3 separate regions of the Homo sapiens genome follow, and regions 1 and 3 are each linked to region 2. Evidence: fine-mapped expression QTL. A gene starts in region 2. Each other region holds a variant in brackets. All regions are shown on one strand. Distances are from middle to middle. Region 1 overlaps SYNGR1 (synaptogyrin 1). Region 2 holds the start of SYNGR1 (synaptogyrin 1). Region 3 overlaps TAB1 (TGF-beta activated kinase 1 (MAP3K7) binding protein 1).

The links. PIP is the estimated chance that this variant, and not a neighbour inherited with it, causes the effect.
Region 1: its variant is fine-mapped to the expression of SYNGR1 in whole blood (TOPMed, PIP above 0.99).
Region 3: its variant is fine-mapped to the expression of SYNGR1 in tibial artery (GTEx, PIP 0.93).

The regions. Positions count from the first base shown.
Region 1 is chr22:39,376,942-39,384,808 of GRCh38, reverse strand. It overlaps SYNGR1 (synaptogyrin 1), which reads right to left. Exons shown (of 4, transcript NM_004711.5): 4 at 1-3,113. The coding sequence ends at 2,895. Among named protein-coding and RNA genes, the nearest start is that of TAB1, 19 kb to the left of the region's middle. RefSeq lists a silencer at 1-25. The variant A/G (reference allele first, on the strand shown) is at 3,635.
Region 2 is chr22:39,347,897-39,354,626 of GRCh38, reverse strand. SYNGR1 (synaptogyrin 1) reads right to left here and starts at 4,636. Exons shown (of 4, transcript NM_004711.5): 1 at 4,518-4,636. The coding sequence starts at 4,616. RefSeq lists an enhancer at 3,157-3,206 and a silencer at 4,430-4,589.
Region 3 is chr22:39,402,906-39,410,772 of GRCh38, reverse strand. The region is part of intron 1 of TAB1 (TGF-beta activated kinase 1 (MAP3K7) binding protein 1); the gene reads right to left. Among named protein-coding and RNA genes, the nearest start is that of TAB1, 7.1 kb to the right of the region's middle. The variant C/T (reference allele first, on the strand shown) is at 5,030.

The DNA.
Region 1 (7,867 bases), 30 kb before region 2:
GCGACTCTACACTTATGTGAAACCTTTTTTCCTGGGCCCTCTCTTGTGCTTGATGGGGAGGAGGGAGCCACCCTGCAGGGTCCAGCTGCAGGAGGGCCCTTCTCCAAGGAAAGCTTTGGGAGCAAGGGAGAAGTAGGGGAGGGCAGCTGGGAGGAAAAGGGATACCGGACAGAGTTGGGCCTGGGGTTCCCCAGGGGCTGTCCTCTGCCAACAGAAGGAGCGAGTTTCCCCATGAACCTTCCAGGGCAGAGTCAGGAGCCCTGGGTCCCATCCAAATCTCGCCCTCCATCTCTCACCCTCTCTCATCTCCATCCTGGGCAGGTCCCTGCCAGAGCCCAGCCTGATGGGGAAGATCATGCCTGGAAGGGCTTCTGGGCTGAACCCGGGAAGAGTGAGGGATTCTTCGTGAGATGACTCAGCACCCCCCATTCCTGGCAGGAGTCTTGACAGCTTTCCCTGCCTAGGGTGGCAGGCAGGGCCTGTCACAAACACCCAAGATGGAGTTAAGCTTACCTGGTACCCTGCCCTCCGGCTGAGGATCACCAGCAGCTGGCTGGCACCCGAGGAGAAACAGATGGGCAGTACCCTGAGGTCTCCTAGTGCCCATCAGCAGGAGAGGCTTTTGGTGGACAGTGGGTGAGGGTCAGAACATCTCACAGCCTCTTGTGGTGGGCACAGAACTTCACTCTGCCATAAACACTCCTGCCCTCACTCACGCCCTCACCTTTGGCCTGGTACAGGTTTCACTCTTCAGGCCAACAGATAACCTGCCCCCATGCTGGTCCCATGTGGGCCACCTGGCGGCGGGGGACTGTGGACAGAGCCCCTTCTCCGGATTGGAAAATGAAGTCAGCAACAACCAGCTGTCACACAGCTGGCTGGGGTCCTCTCCATCACTGCTGTCCTTTGGGAGGACTTGGACACACCTGAGTTTAGATCCGTGTTCCACTGCCAACTCGCCTATGCTTGCCGAGCCTCAGTTTCCCTTCTGTTAAATGGGGATAATGGTGCTACTTCTCTGCTTAGGACTTCCTCCTCTTTCCCTTAACTCTGGCCCAGCTTTGGGGCCATCGAAGCAGGGACCACCCATGCCCTTGGTATCTCCAGCACAGGGGCCGGGTAACTGCTGAGTGAGTAAGCAGGTGAGGGATCGCCTGCCTCTTAGGATTCTTAGATGGGGGATGGGGGGATGGTGGTGAAAACACCCAGCACTGGGCCCGTCCACCACCTGCTCTGCTCTGCTCCCTGAAGGACAGGCCAGTGGACACTGGGTGGACAGGGGGATGGGCCCCCAGCGCTCTCCCATACCTCCCTGTCCCTTATGGCTCAGTGAAGAGCCCACCTTGTGCAAGAATCGACCTGCCCCCACTCAGAAGAGATTATGACCTCCTCAGGCCCCACGGCCCTCTTTGGGCCTTTGGGTCACCTGCCACACTCTCCCCTACAGCCCATGGTCTTCCCTGGGCCTCCCATGCCTCAGGGGCTCTTGCCTGTGTCATCCTGGGGGCAGTGTCTCTCCACGGCCACAGCCCAGGAGCCGACCTGGCTGATTCCAAAGCCCTGTCCTTGCCGCTCTGCCTCCCATAGGGAGGCTGGCTCCACAGTGGGCCTTCTGGAAGGCCAAGGAAACACCTCTCATGCGCTTGGCTGCTGCAGCCCCCGAACCCTGACTGACCCCAGATGAGAGGAGAGGTGACATAGTGTCCCAGATCAGTTCTGTTTCCTGGGAGGTCACAAGGGCAGGGAATCGAGGCACCTGCTGGGCAGCTGGGGCCAAGAAACCCAGGCGTCAGGGCCAGCTTTGCCACTCACTCACCGTGACCTCGGGCCAGTCACACCCTCATCTGTGCCTTGTTGTCCACCCAGCCCTAGGTAAGGGCTTAGTGACCCCTCCTAGAGGCAAGGACAGTGATCAGTCCTTTGAGAGACCACGAAGGGGTTTGCTGGAGCCCCCTGGAACAAGCGTCTGTGGGACACGCAGAGCACAGAGCAGCACCCGGGGTGAGCCCTCTTGGAGGAGGCCAAGGGCCAGGGGTAGGACCAGGGGGATGTGGGTGGAGGGACCCGGAGGTGGGGCTGTCCCCAGGGGAGGAGGAACAGCTGGGGCAGAACAGGCCCTTGGCATGCAGCAGAATCAGGGTGTCTCAAGGGGCTGAGGGCCCCAAGGCCTCCCAGAATGACAGTAACACTGAGCAGGGAAGCCCCAAGCGTGGGGATGGTAGGAGGTGGGTGGCCAGGGAAGAGCACGTGGTCTGCAGTCGGGCAGCCTGGGCTTGGCCCCACCTCTATCACTAGCTGCCTGAGTGATTCTGGGCAAGTAATCTTGACCTCTCTAGACCTCAGTTTCCTCAACCATAAAATGGAGACGGCCCTGACACTCTTAGCAGGACTGCCAGAGCAGGGTGACAGCCCCCAGTGTCCTGTGGGTGTTTACACTCACCCTATGACCAAGCCACGGTGTAGCCACACTTCCCAGCATTATCTGGATCTGTCTTTCCCACCATTCTGGCCTCTGGTACCACCAGGGCTTCCTCCACAGCTCATCGCTCCCCTTTCCAGTGGCCATTTCTGCCAATGTCACCACCCATGCCCAGCACAGGCCGGATGCCCAGTAGGCGCTCAAGGAATGCTTGATGACACAATGTATGAATGCAAATACCCCTGGCCCCCACCCTCTAGGCCCCTGCGGGGCACATGCCCTGGGATATACTTGCACATACGTAGACAGTCCCCAACACTGGACTGCCCCACCCCTGCCCCGAGCTACCCTGGACCTCAGTGGGACAAGGCAGAGGCTGATGAGGCGCTGGGCAGGGCAGCCTGGGCAGGAGCAGGGGCTGGGTGTGGAGAGAGGGGACAGATGGGGAGGGGCGGGGGCAGGCGGTCACTGTGGCTCAGTAGCCCTGCGACTGGTAGCCCTGGGGCTCGGTGTCGAAGGTGTTGGCCGGCTGCTGGTAGGTGCCGCCCATACCGGCGGGATCCGGCCCAGTGGGCTCCACGTAGGGCGCGTAAGGCATGCTGGAGTCCTGGCTGGGGTCCATGTAGTCCTGGGAGAAGAGGGCCGAGTCGGCGCCAATCTGGTACCGCTGGAAGGCCAGCACAGCCTGGCCCGCCTGGGGACAAAGGCCGGCGAGGACAAGGACAGGCGGGAGGGGGTGGTTAGGGGAGAGACAGACAAGAGCACTGGGTTAGTGGTGGTTAGTTCACAGGACACAGGCAGGAGAGGGTTAAAGATCCTCAAAGCACCAAACATGAGACCAAGCTTGGCTGTGGAGAAGGAAGGCTGTTCTCGCAGCCACCCCCGGAAATGCCCAGAACCATATCATCCAGCCAGAAAGTACCCCAGAAATCACCTGCCCCTGTCTCCCAATCCCAGAGGTCAGTCTGGGCTACCAAAAGTTCTAGATCTCCATTATGGAGTGTTAAGATGGCTCAAAGGCTCACAACAGCCTTCTTAAAAAAAGCTTCTCAGCGGGACAAAGGACTGTTAGCATCTCCTAAGAGTCATTCTTTTGTCTCTCTTGCAGCTAGGCATGGCCATGTGACTACGTTTTGGCCAATGGGGTACCCTCATGTTCTCTGTCCCACCCTCTGACCTGATGCCTGGAACACAGATGTGATGGCTGGAGCTCTA[A/G]TTGCCAAAAGGGACCACAAAGACCATGAGCCAAGTCTGTAGGAATGAAAGATGCCTGGGGGCCATGCACCGCGGCTCATGCCTGTAATCCCACAACTTTGATAGGCCAAGGTGGAAGGATTGCTTGAGGCCAGGAGATCAAGACCAGCCTGGGCTAAAATATGCACCTCTGGCATATTGACTATGTTGAGTTAAAGGCACTTGAAAAACAGCAGGCACAATAACAATCTGATCTTCTTCTTGAAAGCAGGAGAGGCCAGGCGCGACAACTCATGCTTGCAATCCCAGCACTTTGAGAGGCCAAGATGGGCAGATTACTTGAGGTCAGGAGTTTGAGACCAGCCTGGCCAACATGGTGAAACCCCATCTCTACTGAAAATTAAAAAAATTAGCTGGGCATGGTGGCATCACCTGTAATCCCAGCTACTCGGGAGGTGCAAGCAGGAGAATCGCTTGAACCCAGGAGGCGGAGGTTGCAGTACCCTGAGACAGCGCCACTGCACTCTAGCCTGGGCAACAAAGTGAGACTGTCTCAAAAAAAAAAAAAAAAAAAAAAAAGGCCAGCTTGGGCAACATAGCAAGACCCCATCTCTACCAAAAAAATCCACAAAAACCAAATTAGCCGGGCATAGTGGTACTGGCCTGTAGTCCCAGCTACTCAGGAGGCTGAGGTGGGAGGATTGCCTGAGCCTATGGGTTTGAGGCTGCAGTGAGCTATGATCCAGCCTGGGCAACAGAGTGAGACCCTGTCTCTAAAAAAAAGGAAAGATGCCTGGGTCACCGAAGACCTCTGGAGCCAGTATGCCAGCCCTGGACCACTTCCACAGCCTTGGACTTTGTTGAAATCACTGTTATCTGGGATTTCGGTCACCTGCTGCTGAACCTAATTCTAAGTGAGAAACTGAGTTAAATAGAGTGAAACAAGTTTCAGGATCATCTGACTTGGCAGAGCCCTGACTATTCAATGTGACCGCGCCTAGCCTGAAGCCGCCCCGTTTTTTTTTTTTTTTTCACAGATCTCAGATTGGGAAAGACTTGTCTACAGCACACATGCATGGTTAGGAAATTATTTTTCAATAAAAGCAATTACATTGTTATTAAGGACAATGACACTGACCACACTGAGCTAAGTCAAAGTTTAAGTAAATCAAACTTGTCATTAGAAAAGCAGCTTAGAGGTTTATTGCAAAAGCCTTCTCCAGAAACTTTCCCGGCCCGGGGAATCTGCCTGTGATGGGAATGTGCTGATACTCTCCAGACCCCTGTTTTAGGGCTGGGAAGATTGAGGCCTAGAAAAGGAAGTGCCCGTGGCAGAGTTACTGCTAGAACCCTTCCCTAAACATGGGGTCCTACCCCTTCCCAGGTCAGGGCGCCCTCACCTCCTTCCCTTTCACTGGCCCCTGACGAGGCACTAAGTCAACCAACAACCTAAAGAGCCACTTAGTGAAGAGGTAGAGAGTGAATATACCTAGCGTTTTATTCCACAAAGTTCCAGAAACCCAGTGACTGGGCATTTCCTTTTTTTTTTTCTTTTTTTTTTTGAGACAGAGTCTCGCTCTGTCACCCAGGATGGGGTGCAATGACACAACCTTGGCTCACTGCAACATCTGCCTCCTGGGTTCAAGTGATTCTCCTGCCTCAGCCTCCCAAGTAGCTGGGATTACAGGTACCCGCCACCACACCAAGCTAATTTTTGTATTTTTAGTAGAGACGGGGTTTTGCCATGTTGGCCAGGCTGGTCTCAAACTCCTGACCTCAGGTGATCCGCCTGCCTTGGCCTCCCAAAGTGCTGGGATCACAGGCATGAGCCACCATGCCCAGCTAGGGCATTACCTTTTGATTGTACTCATTGACCAAAGTTCTGAGGGGAAGCACTTTCTGGGAGGTGGGTATTTAAAGCAAAGTGCCAGCACCTTGGGAAAGGCAGACTAGGTCTAAAGAAATTGGGCTAAGGGATAAGGTGTAGCCCTCTGGGGTTTCCCACTATGTTAGCATGAGGTCCTGGCTGCTGGGGGCTCAGACGCCGGAGCCTGAAGAAGCAGGGGAGGTGAAGAGCCCCCTGAGGGTACACTTGAGCCCTGGCCAGCCCACAGGAACTGACTGAATGAACCTTGAGAGCAATGTCTGTAGACGCGGTTCTCCCCGAGCTCCCTGGCTCTACTATCCAGGCTGGTTTCCTGTACAGAGGCAGAGGGCTGGAGCAGATGACCCCTACTGATCCTTCTAGGGAGATGCCTCTGGCTGTAGGCACTCATACTGTCTCTGTGTTCAGCTCTCTGCCCTCACTAAGTCAAAGCTTCATTTGGGCAACCAGTTTAAGGGGCCACAAGACAGGAGCAAAGGAGAGGCCTGGGCCCCCGCTGGCCTGGGCTGCAGAGGGAGGATGGGAGTTCTACTGAGAGCCCAGGGACCTGGTGGTCCCCTGGCCCCACTTTCTCAGTGTAGGTGCTCTCTCTGCAGCATCTCCAGCGTGCAGCAGGCAGTCTGCATCTGCACTGGGATGCCTCCAGTGCCAGGAAGCTCACTCTCGATGTGCTCAGGCCCTCGCAGGGTTGAGGCATTGCTTTGGGGGAACTGTCTGTGCTCCACCAGCCTCCTCAACTCCAGCAGAGAGTGGAGGAATGGGTGAGTTCCTGCCCAGGCAGCTGGGGGCCTCAAGCAGGAAACCTGTGTAGAACCAGAGACCAAAATCCTTTGGAGGAACAAGGATTCATCACATGAGAATTACTCTTAAAGTAGAGATTCTGGAGGTGCCCCTGACTCTCTGGAGAGAAGAATGAATGAATGAATGAATGAATGAACAAAAGAGCTTACATTTATTGAGCATGCTTGTGCTAAGCCCTGGGCTGGCCTTTGTTTCATTGGCACAACAGCCTTGAGAGGTTGGTCCATTATCACCCCTCAGTTCAGGTAAGTGGACTGAGGCTGAGAGAGGTGCACGGGTTTGTCAGGGTCACATAGCACATGAGGACAGAGCCAGACCAGGAGCCCTGTGACATCCTCGGCCAGGATGCTAACCCTAAGGACAGTGAGGTCACTCTTCACACCGCTGTGAAGGGAGAGGCTATTGCTCTGCACCCACAGCTCAGCAATGGGGACCATGAACGCCTCTAGGCAGCCCATGTATGGGGCCGCTACCTACCTGGTAACTGTCCACGGCTGTCCATTTGGAAGAGATATTGATGTGTTTGTTTTCTCCTCCCCAGCCTGTGGGCTCCTGGAGCCAAGGACCCCACCTAATTCATCACTAGGCACAAAACAGCTGCTCAATAAATGTTTACTGAATGAATGAACGCATGAAGAATCAATGAAGGAGGCGGTGAAGGAATGAATGAGTCAGTGGAGAACCTGAATTGGTTCCTCAAGCCAGCCTTCCACTGCCCTGCATGCCCTGGCATCTTGGACATTTCTGGCACTAGGCTGCTCCTGCCACCTCACTGCCAGGGGTGATACAGGGCTGCCGGCCTCTGCAAGCCGGGGAGGCCTACGGCTGTGCCGAGGCAGGGAACAGTGTGCTGTACTCCTCCTGGAAGCTTAGGTCCTTGAATCTCCGCACGGCCAGGGCTGCGGTCAGGCTCTGCCAGGAGAGAGTAGGGGTGAGGCCAGTGGGGAAGAGCTGCAGAGGTGCCAGGAGGGAGGCTGGCTTCAGGGGGCCGGGCAGGCACCTGTTGGTCAGGTACTTCAGACCCATGGCTAGAAATCATCCACTACTCCTCTGTGAGCCCCGCCCCTAAACTCCTCCCTGTAGGCTGGGTGGTCCCCACTTCTGGGGCACCTTCTCTGGACTGAGATCCCCTGGGGTCACCTGGTTCTTCCTACCCAGTCTTGAGGACACTGAGGGGTGGAGCAGCCAAGGCTGGCCCACTAGGGCCTGAACCACGGGTCTCCCCCTCCAAATGCTATCTTCTAATATTGTTGGGGAGATGGGTGTACCCCTCAAAAATGGATATCCAGGGGCCCTCAAAAAGAAAAAGACGTCAACCCGGGGCAAACCAGAAGGATGGGGGAAACAGGGACGGCTGGCGGCCTGTATGTAGCCTCAAGAGTCTCCTTGCAGGAGGCTGGGCCCAGAAGTGCTCGCCGGTCCAGAGGGGAGGCAGCTGTGGGTTATGGGGAGGGCTCTTGGGATGGGGCTATGGAGGTGATGTGGCCCCAGATCTCTGCAGAAGGGTGATTAGGAGAGAAGAAACAGACATGACCCAGACCAGTGGGAAAGAGGGGCCAGCCGAGCTG
Region 2 (6,730 bases):
CTCAAGTGATCCACCCGCCTTGGCCTCCCAAAGTGCTGGGATTATAGGCGTGAGCCACCTCACCTGGCCAAGTTCAGCTTTTTTATTCAGTGTTCACTTGGGATGATGGGGGGTGGAGTGGAGGGGGTGAATAAAACCAGGGGTATGAAGCTGCCCCCCTCAGGCCACCCCTTGGTGCCATGGATATCCAGGCAGAGAACCCACAGGGAGTACACAGAATGTGGAGCCCAGCAGTCCGGGTTCAAACCAAGTCTCTGACAAGCCCAGGCCTTGAGCTAGCACAAGTCACTTCTCCAGGCTGAGCCTTAATTCTGTCATTTGTAAAACGGGGGGAAGATACCCACCCCACTTACAGAACCATGTGGTATTATGGCCAAAGCCCTTAAAAAATGAACCCTGAAAATGGCAACATTTCAAACATTTTATCATTTTCATTTTGTCAAAGTAGAGAATTAAAGAAACATTGACTGGGCACGGTGGCTCACACCTGTAATCCCAGCACTTTGGGAGGCTGAGGCGGGTGGATCACTAGGTCAGGAGTTTGAGACCAGCCTGGCCAAGATGGTGAAACCCCGTCTCTACTAAAAATTTAAAAAGTAGCTGGGCATGGTGGTGGGTGCCTGTAATCCCAGCTATTTGGGAGGCTGAGGCAGGAGAATCACTTGAAACCAGGAGGCAGAGGTTGCAGTGAGCCAAGATCGCGCCACTGCACTCTAGCCTGGAGACAGAGCGAGACTCCATCTCAAAAACAAAAAACAAACAAACAAAAAACTCATCTGCCAGCACTGATATTCATTCCCTATAGTCCATCTTAGCCCCCTGCAAAAAAGAATATAAACTCCAAATAAAAGGTGGTCCTTTCTATTAAATCAGTTTAGCTTCTTGCTGTAACTCCTTTTTTTCCCATCTGGCTTTAGAACAAAGAAATGAGTCACTGACAGGCGGCAGTCACCGCGCAACAGATCAGGCACTTCTGACCCAGCCCAGCCCAGTTCGGGTGGGAAGACTGAGGCACAGAGGGTGGGGAGGGGACACTTACTGAAGGTCACAGCTGTGGCCTGGGGGTGCCAGGAGTGGCAGCTGATCTGCCACTGGGGCGATGACACCAAGAGGTGAGAAAGCCTTAGTCAAGAGACAAGCCATGCCGGATGCAGTGGCCCACGCCTCGCCTCATCGTCCCAGCTGCTCACAAGGCTGAGGTGGGAGGATCACTTGAGTCCAGGAGTCTGAGACCAGCCTGGGCAACACAGCAAGATCCTGTCTCTAAAAAAATAAAAAAGAGACAAGCCAGGTCTTGGAGGCCCTGCTTCTGTGCAGGCTGACCCAGGGGCTCAGAGGGCTTGGGTTCCAGGGTGGGTCCAGGTTGGTGAGGCCCTGAAGCTTACATGATTTGGGGGCCCTCTTTTGGAAAAGCAACAGAAAAAAAAATCTTTCTTTTACAAATTTTACAAAAATCCCAGGTCCAGGCCGGGTGCGGTGGCTCACGCCTGTAATCCCAGCACGTTGGGAGGCCAAGGCAGGTGGATCACCTGAGGTCAGGAGTTCGAGACCAGCCTGGCTAACATGGTGAAACCCCATCTCTACTAAAAATACAAAAATTAGCTGGGCGTGGTGGTGTGTGCCTGTAGTCCCAGCTACTTGGGAGGCCGAGGCAGTAGAGTTGCTTGAACCTGGGAGGCGGAGGTTGCAATGAGCCGAGATGGCACCATTGTACTCCAGCCTGGGCAACAGAGCAAGACTCCATCTCAAAAAAAGAAAAAAAACAATCACAGGTTCATGTGCACATGCTGTTAGGGCCCCTCCAGGGCTGTGGTAGGGGTCTGGGTTGTCCAGGAGTCCTGGACAGGGTGACAAATTGTCCCTGTTTGTCTGGACTAAGGGCCTCTCAGAATGCTAAAGGCAGGAAGTTCCAGCACACCAGGATAAACGGGTCACCCTGGTCCTGGAGCTCAGCTTCACTTGCTCTGCCCTGTGGTGTGAGGGCCAAGAGCAGGCGCCAGCTGCATCCCCCGCAGCTCCTGATGTGTTTAAATGGCTCAGCACGCCACACAGTTTCGAAAAGACCAGAAGGAGACAGCACCCTATTCACTGCAGCCCTCCCTAAGTGGTGGTATCACATGATTACCACCCCCCACCAAACTTTTTCTGTTGTGGTAAAACACACGTAACATACAATTTACCATCTTCACCATTTCAGTGGTGTTAAGTACATTCCTACCGTGCAACCATCACATGTGATTTTTATACTTTCCAATAATTGGCAGGTATTACTCTGATCAGGAAAAAAAGCTACTTTTAAAGGTGTCAATCAGCCTGTATCAGACACCTCTTGGTTCGACAAAGGTAGTGAGCGCCTTGTATCCACGTGTGTGAGCAGGACTGGGAGGCTGTGGGGTCGTTTGAGCATTGGTTGGTCCAGGTGACCTTTGTGTCCTTTCCAATCCTGACATTCCAGGATTCTGGATTCTTCCCTGCCCCAGGGGGAGAACTACTCTTTGGAGACAGGAAGACCTAGGCTCAAATGCTCGTCTGCCACTTACATGCTTAGTGACTTTGGGCCAGGCACTTGGCCTCGCTCGCTGAGCCGCAGCTTCCTCTAGTGTTGGGGAACCAGCTAGGTAGCTGTGTGTGGTCTTGCACCCCATGGGTGCTCAGAGGGGCTGATCCTTCCTCCTGCTTTCCACGTCCTCTCCCCTGGATGTGCATATGTATAAACCCTCATCCCACCAGGCCCAATCTGACATCACCTTCACCATGAAATTTGATTCCACAGCAGGGAGACCCCTCTCCTGGCTCTTGCGGCCTCTGCCTGGGGGCACCTGGCTCACTCCCCAGTGGGACTGTGGCTTCCCGAGAACAAGGGCTGCTTCTGAGTCACGCTGCCTTCCCTTGGGGCCCAGCAGATTCAATAAAGCTTTGCTAAATGAAGGCATCAGAGGCAGAAATGACCCAAGCAGACAAGCCCCCTCACAAAGCCAGTGGCTTCGCCCTTCCAGGCCAGAGGCCCAGGGGTGGGCAGACTAAAGCAGTGAACGCAGCCCACCCGCCTGATCCGGCAGGTGCCCCCCAGGGCTCCCACCTTTGGCAAGGGTCTGTTGGGGCATCTGGGGAGCAGGAGACTGGCACAGATAAATGAATTCAGAGCCACAAACACAGATGTGCTGGGGTGCCCGGCTCTGTGCAGGCACCGACACAAGGGTTAAAGGAACTGGGCTTTCCTGCCCTCAAACAGCTCCCATCTGACGGCATTTGAGAAGAAAAGGCTTTAAATGGGGTCATCCTTCGCAGACCAGGGATACATACCCAAGCCATCCTACCAACCAGACCCTGAAAACCAAGGAAAGGAGGAAGCTTGGGCACCCTGAGGTCACAGCTGGCCTTGGGGTAGCCCCTGGGGTCCCTGACAGTCTAGCCCATTCCTAGTCTAAGCCCACAAGGAACGGGCCCCAGGCCTGCAGAGGCCAGAACCTCGAGTGGGAGTTTCTGGGATACAGCCAGCCAAACCCAGGGAGCCCCAGAAACCCCCTCTCCAGACCCCAGCAGGGCTTCTTTCCATGAGGTGCCACTCAAGGCACCTGAACCCCTCCCTCTGTGCTCACTGTCTCTGACCCATCCTCTCCCTGACCACCCGTCTGAACAAGAGCCCACTCAGCCCTCTGCACTGAGGACCCTGCCCCCCAGCTAGGCTGGAGGCCACCCTGGCCTCTTCACTGTGGGAGCAGACCTTTCTCCCAGACACCCGCCTTGGGCATCCAGGTGCATGCTGAGTGGGAGGGGTGTTACCGGTTCATGAAATGTCAGAGCCCAAGGGGGCCTCAAGAAGGCTCCGCCCACCTTGTCTATAAATTGGGAAACTGAGGCATGAGAGAGGAGATGACACTCCCCACCTCGGAATTGAAGTCCTCATTTCTCGAGAACATTTCCTGGGTGGCTCCCAGCCCAAGGTCACGCAGAGAAGGAGAGGCAGTTCCCGGGTGGAAGAGAGGTACTCAGTTCCCGACTCATCGCTCCACACGGGCCGGGCTAGGCAATACGAACCCGGTTCCCGGCCCTCTCCTCCTCCAACGTCCATCGCAGGCGCGGCATGCACCCCACCGAGATGGTCCACGCCCTGATCCACCCCCCAAAAAAGGCCACCTTAAACCCTGGCTCCGTCCCCACGGTCCCCAGTCCGCCCTGGCGGCCGCGCACAATCCGAGCCTTTCGCGGCATAGCCGCGGCCTGGAGGTCACAGCAATCGGGGCGGGAAGGGGGGCGCACGAACCGGGGGCCCCAGGAAACCAGGGCTCCGGGAGCCGGAGCGGCGTCTCCCGCGAGCACCAGGGATCCCGCCCGCCCCGGGCCCGGGAAGGAGGAGCGGCGGCAGCGGGCCCCGCAGGCAGGACAGCTCCTCGCCCGCCGCCGCGCCGCCGCCGGGGGCCCGTTGGGGTCGGGGTCGGGGTCGGTCCGGGCGCGCCGCCTTTGCTCACACCCCCACCACCCCGGCCTGGCAGAGCCGTCGGCCAGTCCGTCCTTACCCAAGACACGACGCGCAGGATGGTGTGCGGCTGCCGGACCAGGGTGTAGGGGTCGAAGGCGCCCCCGGCTTTGCCCGCTCCGTACGCACCCCCTTCCATCGTGGCTGCACCCGCGCGGTGCCCCCCGCTCGGCGCGCGCCGCCGGCCCGTGCGCGTGCGCGGCGCCCCCGCCCCCTCCCCTGCGCGCGCGGCCGGCGGCCCAGGGCTCCCGCGAGGGGGCGTCGTGCGCGGCGGGCGCAGCTCGCGGGGCGCGGGCGGGGGGCTGGGCAGCGCGCGACCTCGGGCGCGGGGGCGCGCGTGCTGCGGCCCGGGGCTCAGGGCGCGCTCGCAGCCAGTGCGGTGACCTCTTTGCAAAGTGTTTGGGGGAGGGCGGTGCGTGCACAGCAAGTGTGGGCCGTGTCCCTGCCCCGCATCCCCGGTCCCCTGCCCCGGTCGCAGCCCCTCTGAGCCGTCGGCTCTGCTGAAACCATCTTCACGCTTGATTTGTTTGGCTGTTTCCTGCCACTTTGTCGGCCCCAAATATAATGAGAGGGCAGGAGCTGTGTTCGTCCTTCTTAGAGGGTGCTTGGTACGCAGTAGGCGCCGCATGAATATTTCTCGAATGAATGAACCACGAGTGAATGACCCTCTCTTACAGCCCTCCAGAGCAGCCCCCACCTCCCAGGACCACCCTTCCCCTGCCTCTTACGATGACGTCATGTGTGTCCCTGTGCCCGCGCACCCTCCCACCCCCAGCCTGGAGGGGCCTGGCACAGAGGCGGCGGCTGAGACTTCCTCTTCCCCATCCCCTCCTACCCCAGAACGTTGCCCCTTTCCTGAATCTAGCAATTAATTACGCAATCATTTGTTCATGGCCTCTTCTGCTGCTAGTCTGTGAGCTCCCGAGGCCCAGGTGTTGTCTAACTTATTCAATGCCTTACCCAAGGGCCTAGCATACAGTAGGTGCTCAGTAAACAGAGCCTAGTCCCCATCACCCCATCACAGCTTGGGCTAGACCTCCAGGTTTCATGGAAACGGAGGCTAGATGGAGGAGTGCTCCCTGCAGGGGAAGGGCCACCTTCCAGGGCTGGCTCTCCTGCTGCCCTGTAGCTCTATGGCCTCTCTATGTCTGCAGTCACCTTCACTGGTTCCAGGAGCAGGTTGGATGAGGATATGGGTGGAGGCTTTTGCTTCTCTGGTATCCTGCCATTCTGTGATGACAGGACACAACATCTGTGTGGAGGAAATGTGTGCTGGGCCTGAGGGTGCTCCTTATAAAAATTACATAGTCAATGTCCATCTTAGGCTCAGCTGATTGTTTAGTCTCTACCAGGCCTTGTGCTAAGGGCTTTACATACATTTTCACATTTAATCCAGCACACTTATAAGGTGTCTACTATGACTATATAAAACTTTTAGAAGAAAGCACAAGAGAAGGCCGGGCGCAGTGGTTCACGCCTGTAATCCCAGCACCTTGGGAGGCCAAGGTGGATGGATCACAAGGTCAAGTGATTGAGACCATCCTGGCCAACATGGTGAACCCGGTCTCTACTAAAAATACAAAAATTAGCCGGGCGTGGTGGCGAGCTCCTGTAGTCCCAGCTACTTGGGAGGCTGAGGCAGGAGAATCACTTGAACCCAGGAGGTGGAGGTTGCAGTGAGCCGAGATCGCGCCACAGCACTCCAGCCTGGCAACAGAGCGAGACTCCGTCTCAAAAAAAAAAAAAAAAAAAAAAAATCATGAAGAACATGATTCATAAAAGAAACAATTGATAAACTGGACTTTATCAAAATTAAGAACTTCTGTTCTTTAAAAGACATTGTTAAAAGAATGTATGAAAAGACAAACGATAGTCTGGGAGAAAATATTTGCAAAGCATAGATCTAAAGAACTTGCATCCCAAATAAAGAACGTTCGAACTCAATAATAATAAGAGGACCCACTTTTTAAAAAATGGGCAAAAGATTTGAATAGTTATACACCTCACCAAAGAAGATATACACACGGCAACTCAGCACATAAAAAGATGCCCAGCATCCGCGGTGGCTCACGCCTATAATCCCAGCACTTTGGGAGGCCGAGACGGGCAGATCATGAGGTCAGGAGATTGAGACCATCCTGGCTAACACGGTGAAACCTCATCTCTAGTAAAAATACAAAAAAAAAAAAAAAAAAATTAGCCGGGTGTAGTGGCTGTAGTCCCAGCTACTCGGGAGGCTGAAGCAGGAGAATG
Region 3 (7,867 bases), 56 kb before region 2:
AGTAGACATTGTCACTATGTTGAGTCTTCTAATCCATTAACATGGTGTGTCTCTACACTTATTTATGTCTTCACTGGGTGACTTTTATTTATTTATTTTTATTAACACAATTTTACTACAAGGTCTGAAAAGCTACTAACGCCTTCTAATAGCCTTTGAAAATAGACAGTATAACCAAACCCTACTAATGGAAATGAAAAAAAAAAGGAAGATGAAATGGCAGTAAGTGCTAGCTGAGCCAAGTATGTCACAACTAAATTAAAAAAAAAAAAAAGTAGAAATGGCAACAATTCTGCTCAGCTCCTCATGACACCAGGCTTAAATTTAACACTTTCAGTACAAGCAACGCCAAAAGAAAAACTGCTGACCTGGCACAGTGGCTCACGCCTGTAATCCCAGCACTTGGGGAGGCTGAGGCAGGTGGATCACTTGAGGTCAGGAGTTTGAGACTAGCCTGGGCAATGTGGCAAAATCCTGTCTCTACTAAAAATACAAAAATTAGCCAGGCGTGGTGGTGCGCACCTGTAATTCCAACTACTCAGGAGGCTGAGGCAGGAGAATCACTTGAATGCAGGAGGTGGAGGTTGCAGTGAGCTGAGATCACACCACTGCACTCCAGCCTGGATGACAGAGTGAGACTCAGTCTCAAAAAGAAGAAGAAAAACGGCTTCACAGTAACACAAAATTGGGTCTAGTTCTAATCTTGAACTGTTTCATTTTAAAGCAAAATTAATGCCTCTCTTAACATAAATGGGAACTTAGGTCTTCCGGACCCACATATGATATTATGTGATTACAGTACATTAAATCACTACATACATTCTTTCAATAAATATCTGCTGAGCATTTGCAACAGTCTGGCAGTATTCTGGGTACTGCGGACACAGAAGAGAAAACAGAGAGGCTCCTTATTTGAAGCCTCCCTTCTAGGGAGAGAGAGAATTCAAACACACAATACAATAATAAGGCAATCTCAGACAGCGCTACGTGCTAGGAAGAAAACACACCATGGTAATGGGACACAGCGTGATGGGCGGTGGGGGCCTCTAGATGAAGTGGTCAGAAAAGCAGACCTCTCTGGGGAGGTGACGTCTGAGCCAGACCTGAATGACTATGGGGCAGTGACCTTCTAGAAGGCAGAGAAGGAGGCTTCCAGGCAGAGGGAGCGGAACGTAAAAAGACCCTAAGATGGAAAAAAGCATGTCAGGTTTACGGAAGCACGAGAAGGCTGGTGTGGCCTCTCTAGTGAGCACAGGGGAAAGACGCTCCATGCCGTGTTTGCAAATATGTGTGCACGTATGTGCCTGGGGGGGAGGGCAGTGCAAGGCCTCTGGGCCATGGGAATGAGTTAATAACCAGTGAATTAAGTATTCTTCAGGTAACTGATAAATGTTGCCAATTATCCCCTATGTCTTAGATCTGCTTAGTATATTTTCATTTCCAGCGAGCTCACAAAAGTCTCCTATAACCAGGCAAATATACTTCCAAAGGTAGCTCCTTTTCTAGTCTGTCTCCTGCCACCAGCTGGAATGAAATTAATTATGAGGTTAAGCAGAAATACAAAAGCATCTACCCAGTCAGGAGTATCCCATGTCTTCCTCCTGAAAAGATGGCCAAAGAAGTCAATATTTAGCACCCCAAAGTGCCACAGGTGTTTTAAAGCATGGGAGGAAAAGATATTTCTATTTTCTAGAAGGCTGTGATTAAAAATGAGATTAAGATGAACTCATCCTCTCATATGAGATGAATAATATTAACACAAATGTGTCACCACAATGCAAAACCTGTCTTCGATGCTGTAATCACAGTTACCTCCTCTGCCAGTATCTAATTCCCATAAGGGACAGACACAGGCTTCCAAGGACTTGAATCTTTCTAAAAAAATCCATAGTTTCCCAGCCAAATAAATAAGACCCAAGCAACTTATGGGTCTGTTCCACATTAGACATACACTATTAAAAAAGGCCAGTGAGGCCAGGCACGGTGGATCAATCCTGTAATCCCAGCACTTTGGGAGGCCGAGGTGGGTGGATCACCAAGTCAGGAGTTCAAGACCAGCCTGGCCAATATGGTGAAACCCTGTCTCTACTAAAAATACAAAAATTAACCGGGTGTGGTGGCAAGCGCCTGTAGTCTCAGCTACTCGGAAGGCTGAGGCAGAAGAATTGCTTGAACCCAGGAGGTGGAGGTTGCAGAGAGCCGAGATCGCACACGCCACTGCACTCCAGCCTGGATGACAGAGCGAGACTCCGTCTCAAAAAACAAAAACAAAAACAAAAAACGCCAGTGAAATTGTCTTCCACAAGTAAAGAAAGAAACAAGCTCAAACAGGCAACTGAGGAACTTGCCACGTTGGTGTGTCATGGCACAAGAACAATTCATCTGAGAGCGTTTCACAACAGGAGACCAGGAGTAAGCTGATGATCTACTGACCACTGTATGCTGTGCTGTATTTGGCTGATGTGGGAATAACTAACTTTCCCAAATGAGAAAAACTGTGTGTCTGACGGCAATCAATCTACTGAGCACGTGCCTTGTTCATTAAGTACCCGTGAATAGTGTCTAGATATTTCAACACTGCTAAGTACTTTTTTAGGAAATCTGATTTTCATAATGTTGAGGCAGTAATATTTCTGGAATTTATTATTTTATAAACTGGCAAATGGTGTTTGGGTCAGTAAGTATGGACACTAGTGCTATTGTTTATCTAAGGAGTCTTGGTCCATTCTTGGTAAAAACACTCCAGAAAACAGAAACTGATGGCTCCTTTCTGAACATGCTACTCTGTATACTTCAGCCCTAATGCTGGCAACTTACTCAGTGGGGAACACTTCATTAAGATCAGGGCCATAGGGCTGGGCATGGTGGCCCACATCTGTAATCCCAGCACCTTGGGAGGCTGAGGCGGGCAGATCACGAGGTCAAGAGATTGAGACCATCCTGGCTAACATGGTGAAAACCCGTCTCTACTAAAAATACAAAAAATTAGGCTGGGCACGGTGGCTCACACCTGCAATCTGAGCACTTTAGGAGGCCGAGACCGGCGAATCACGAGGTCAGGAGATCGAGACCATCCTGGCTAACACAGCAAAACCCCGTCTCTACTAAAAATACAAAAAATTAGCCGGGCGTGGTGGCAGACGCCTGTAGTCCCATCTACTATCGGGAAGCTGAGGAAGGAGAATCGCTGGAACCCGGGAGGCAGAGCGTGCAGTGAGCCGAGATCACGCCACTGCACTCCAGCCTGGGAGACAGAGTGAGGCTCCCTCTCAAAAAAAAAAAACAAAACAACAACAAATGATCAGGGCCATAGCAAGGCTGCCCACTCTATTACTTCACACAGAACTGGAGGTGTTAGCCCAGGCAGTTAGACAGAGTAAAGAATGAGAGCATAAAAACCGGGAAAGAAGTCATTTCTATTTGCAGTTGATAGGACAGTACGCCTGGCAACCCTAAAGAATCAATGAAAAACTAATGCAAACAGAAAAAGAAATCAGTTAGGCGGCAGGATAGAAAATCAAAGTATGCAAATCAACAGCTTTCATATACCCAAGAGAAGATGAGCATCTAGCCTCTATGTAATGTAAAATAACAAAGTCCTTTTCCTGTGAGTTTCTACCATGTCTGTCTCCCCCAGCCAAACTACTATAGAAGGTTGTTTTAAATCTAAATTTATATCAGTCGAATTACATCTTAATGCATTCATCCCAGCCTTCCAGACTGTCGAAAGTTTTGAATTTTGCCCTTTGACAGATTAACAATCTCACTCAGCTGTGTATCTTGTACAGACAAGGCCTTCTACTCACTGTTCCAAACAATCTCTAAAAAACTGTGACCAGAGGCCGGGCGCAGTGGCTCACGCCTGTAATCCCAGCACTTTGGGAGGCCAAGGCGGGCAGATCATGAGGTCAAGAGATTGAGACCATCCTGGCTAACACGGTGAAACCCCGTCTCTACTAAAAATACAAAAAAATTAGGTGGGCGTGGTGGTGGGTGCCTGTAGTCCCAGCTACTCCAGAGGCGGAGGCAGGAGAATGGTGTGAACCCGGGAGGCAGAGCTTGCAGTGAGCCGAGATGGCGCCACTGCACTCCAGCCTGGGCGACACAGCAAGACTCCGTCTCAAAAATAAAAAATAAATTAAAAAAAAATAAAGAAAGAGTAAGAAAAAAATTACCCAAAGAGCATATGTAAAAGTACCCATGGTAAGGCAAAGCCTGTCCCTTTCTGTCTTTTTAAGTCCTATCTACCCTAAAGGCACTGCTCAAATCCAACTAGGGCCAGAGGCCCATGATTCCCAAACCTCAATCATCCACTGACCATCTTCAAGAAACTATCTTTCACTCAAATGATTCCTTTTTTTTTTTTTTTTTTTTTGGTGACAGTCTCACTCTGTCGCCCAGGCTGGAGTGCAGTGGCGCGATCTTGGCTCACTGCAAGCTCTGCCCCTCCAGGTTTAAGCAATTCTCTGCCTCAGCCTCTGGAGTAGCTGGGATTACAGGTGCGTGCCACCATGCCCGGCTAATTTTTTGTATTTTTAGTAGAGACGTGGTTTCACCATCTTGGCCAGGCTGGTCTTGAACTCCTGACCTTGTGATCCACACGCCTTGGCCTCCCAAAGTGGCCCTGTGGCAACCATTGTGCTATAGCCTGGTATTGTTAATTAGATTACCTTATTTCACTGATTTGAAGACCTACATTTTCCACATGTTAACGTCTCTGGAGTTGGTATGTTACAAGTTAATTAGCTGTGAGTTCTCTTTCTGAGCAATAGACAAAACACTGACGTGTCCTTAAAACATTGGTGTCTTAGATCCAATGACACATGGGCAGTTTCTCACGTAATTCGGGCGCTCGCCAGACACTGGTTCACTACAGTGGCCGGAGAACCTCAGGAGGTTCTACCAAGTGGGAGTGAGAGTATCTGGTCTTCTCCGTGTTCCCCAGCGGACTCACGCTGCTGCAGCTGAGTAGGCTTGGATCGTGTTCTCCCGTCCCTTTCCATCTCCATCGAGGATTAGCCATACCGAG[C/T]GTCCATTGCTGATTCCATTAAAGCCTACAGGACTGCCAAGTCTCTCGCTTCCTTCCTCCACATTTCTGAACAATTTTCAGAAAGGTCATGTACTTTCTATTCACACAAACCACCCACCCCTCCACCCCTGCACACACTGATGCATACTTTCTCCCACGCCCCCAAATGCCAGGCCTGCCAGCACCAGCCGTGAGCGGCGCTGGAGCGCAGGGAGCAAGAGTCTGCGAGAAGCTGAGAAGGGGGCGTCTCTCACTCAGCACAGCCTCATCGCGGAGCCACTGCAACACACACAACAGCGAACGCAGGACTTAACTCTTCCATGTCTGAGAAATGAACTGCTCATGAGAAATTTCACAAGAATACGTTAAGAAGCCTGTTTCAAAAGACCTAATTTTGATTTGATTTTGTGAAGGAGTTTCCAAAATTAATGTTTCGGTATGAAAAGCTTCTACAGTGATCCAACAGTATTTAACCCAACAAGGCCTTTACAAACACCCTGTGCATGATGTAAGCATTCACTCCTCATGTATATATGTGTCCATGTCACATAATAGTTCACAAAGTACCCACACAGACTCATCTCAAAGTCCTGGGCAGCAGAAATGGACAAAGAATGGTTCCAAGCTCAGGCCACAGCTTGAATACCAAATTATGCTATGAAAAGGCCAAGTGTTTTTGTGGTAAAAGCACCCACATTCCTTAGAAGCAAAAAGGAAGCTCAGAAAGGGAGACTCACAACCCCAGGAAGAGGGCTCGGAGCAGGGGAGCAGCAGACCTTTCTCTCCAAAAAGCTTCCAAGGCCCCAATGCCCCCACCACCTCCAACCTTCCGGATGACCCACTTCTCTGAGACCAGCTCCACTCCTGGCCCCCACTTCTCCCACCGGAGTTTTCATTGAAGGTTCTCCATGTCGTCATCCTAAAGAGCTCCTCATTCATTCTTAAAGGGGCTAATAATCATTGTTGGCACTTCCAATGTGCTAGGGCAGCAGCTGGGTGTATGCAATGGGTATAGGTGGTACCCCCATGGACCTTTTTATTTTAGTGGCTATGTATTTATTTTAACATCCTTTAGATAAATTACACAGATAGCAGCACCTATGATCTCAGATATAATTGCTCAGGACATGTCGAAGTTTAAAAAATTGATTTTAAGCTTACTTTCTTTTTTTTTTTTTAAACAGGTCTTGCTGTGTCACCCAGCCTGGAGTGCAGTGAGGGGATCATAGCCTCACTACAACCTCAAACTTCTGGGCTCAGGCAATCACCCCATTAAGTCTCCTAAGTACTACAGGCACATACCACCATGCCTCACTAATTTTTTTAAAGACTGAATCTCACTATGTTGCCCGAGCTGATCTGGAACTCCTGGCCTCAAGTGATCCTCCTGCCTCAGCCTCCCAAAGGGCTGGGATTCCAGGCATGAGCCACCATGCCTAGCCTGATTTTCTTTTTTATAATTAAGTAACAGTACAGGCAAAATCAAACTCTTGATTCCCCCTGCCCCAGGGTGCCCCTCTTCCAGGGCTCCCTCACCCCGTAAATGGCACCACTGTTGTTTAAACCAAAACCTTAAGAGTCCTTTTTGACTCTTCTTCCTCTGTCACACACCTCACATTCAATCCATCAGCAAATCACATGAGCTCTTCCTCCAAAACACAACTGGAATCTGATACTTCCCACCATTCTTCTGCCATCCCCATGGCCAAGACACCTTCTCGCACCTGGATGACTCTAGGAGTCTCTTAGGAGGTCCCAGGCTTCCACTCTCACCACTCAAACTCAAAAGAGGGATTTTTCGGCCGGGCACGGTGGCTCACGCCTGTAATCCCAGCACTTTGGGAGGCCGAGGCTGGCAGATCACGAGGTCAGGAGATCGAGACCATCCTGGCTAACACGGTGAAACCCCGTCTCTACTAAAAAAAAAAATACAAAAAGTTAGCTGGGTGTGGTGGTGGGTGCCTGTAGTCCCAGCTACTTGGGAGGCTGAGGCAGGAGAATGGCGTGAACCTGGGAGGCGGAGCTTGCAGTGAGCTGAGATTGCGCCACTGCACTCCAGCCTGGGCAACAGAGCGAGACTCCGTCTCAAAAAAAAAAAAAAAAGAGGGATTTTTCTCCAATCAAAAGTCACATCACATCAGGTCCCTACTCAATCTGCTCCCCATGAAAGCTTCACATCACATGAAGAATGGAATCCAGAGGCCACATCAGGACCTGTGAAGCCCAGCATGGCCCCCGGCTCCCTCAGACCTCAGCTACTCCCAAGCTCCCCCAAGGCACTCCACCCAGCTGCACCAGCACCCCTGAGGCTCCTGAAACAGCAGCCTTTGCATCTCCTGCTCCCTTGGGCAGGAATGCTGCCCCCATTTCCCCGTTTTCATCTCATCAAATGTGGAGAAGTCTTCCCTTACCACCCTGTCCAAAATGGCACCCCCAACATTCTGTGTGTGAATCTAGACTGTTCCTCATAGCACCACCTGATGCTGTAGTTTGGATATTACAAAATCACAGATGATCTGTATCTGTTCGGTGCTCACTGTCTGTCCCCTTTACTAGACCATCAGCTCCACAAAGGCGGTGTCTCCTGCACCTGCAGGGTGCCTAGCACATAGTGAGTGCTCAGGGACATTTAAGGGAATGAACAGCATTCACTCACGGCAGCACTGAAGGTAGAAGTTTCTGGTTAGCGGGCAACCAAGCCAGGCTAGTAGTGGAATGTGTCAGTTCCTTTAACACCAACAATACTCCCCAGAGTCCTCTTGGTTTGGAGAAACTAAGGCTCAGGGACATAAAGTGATTTGCCCAAAGCCAGTATGAGACTAACACTGTTTTATCCGG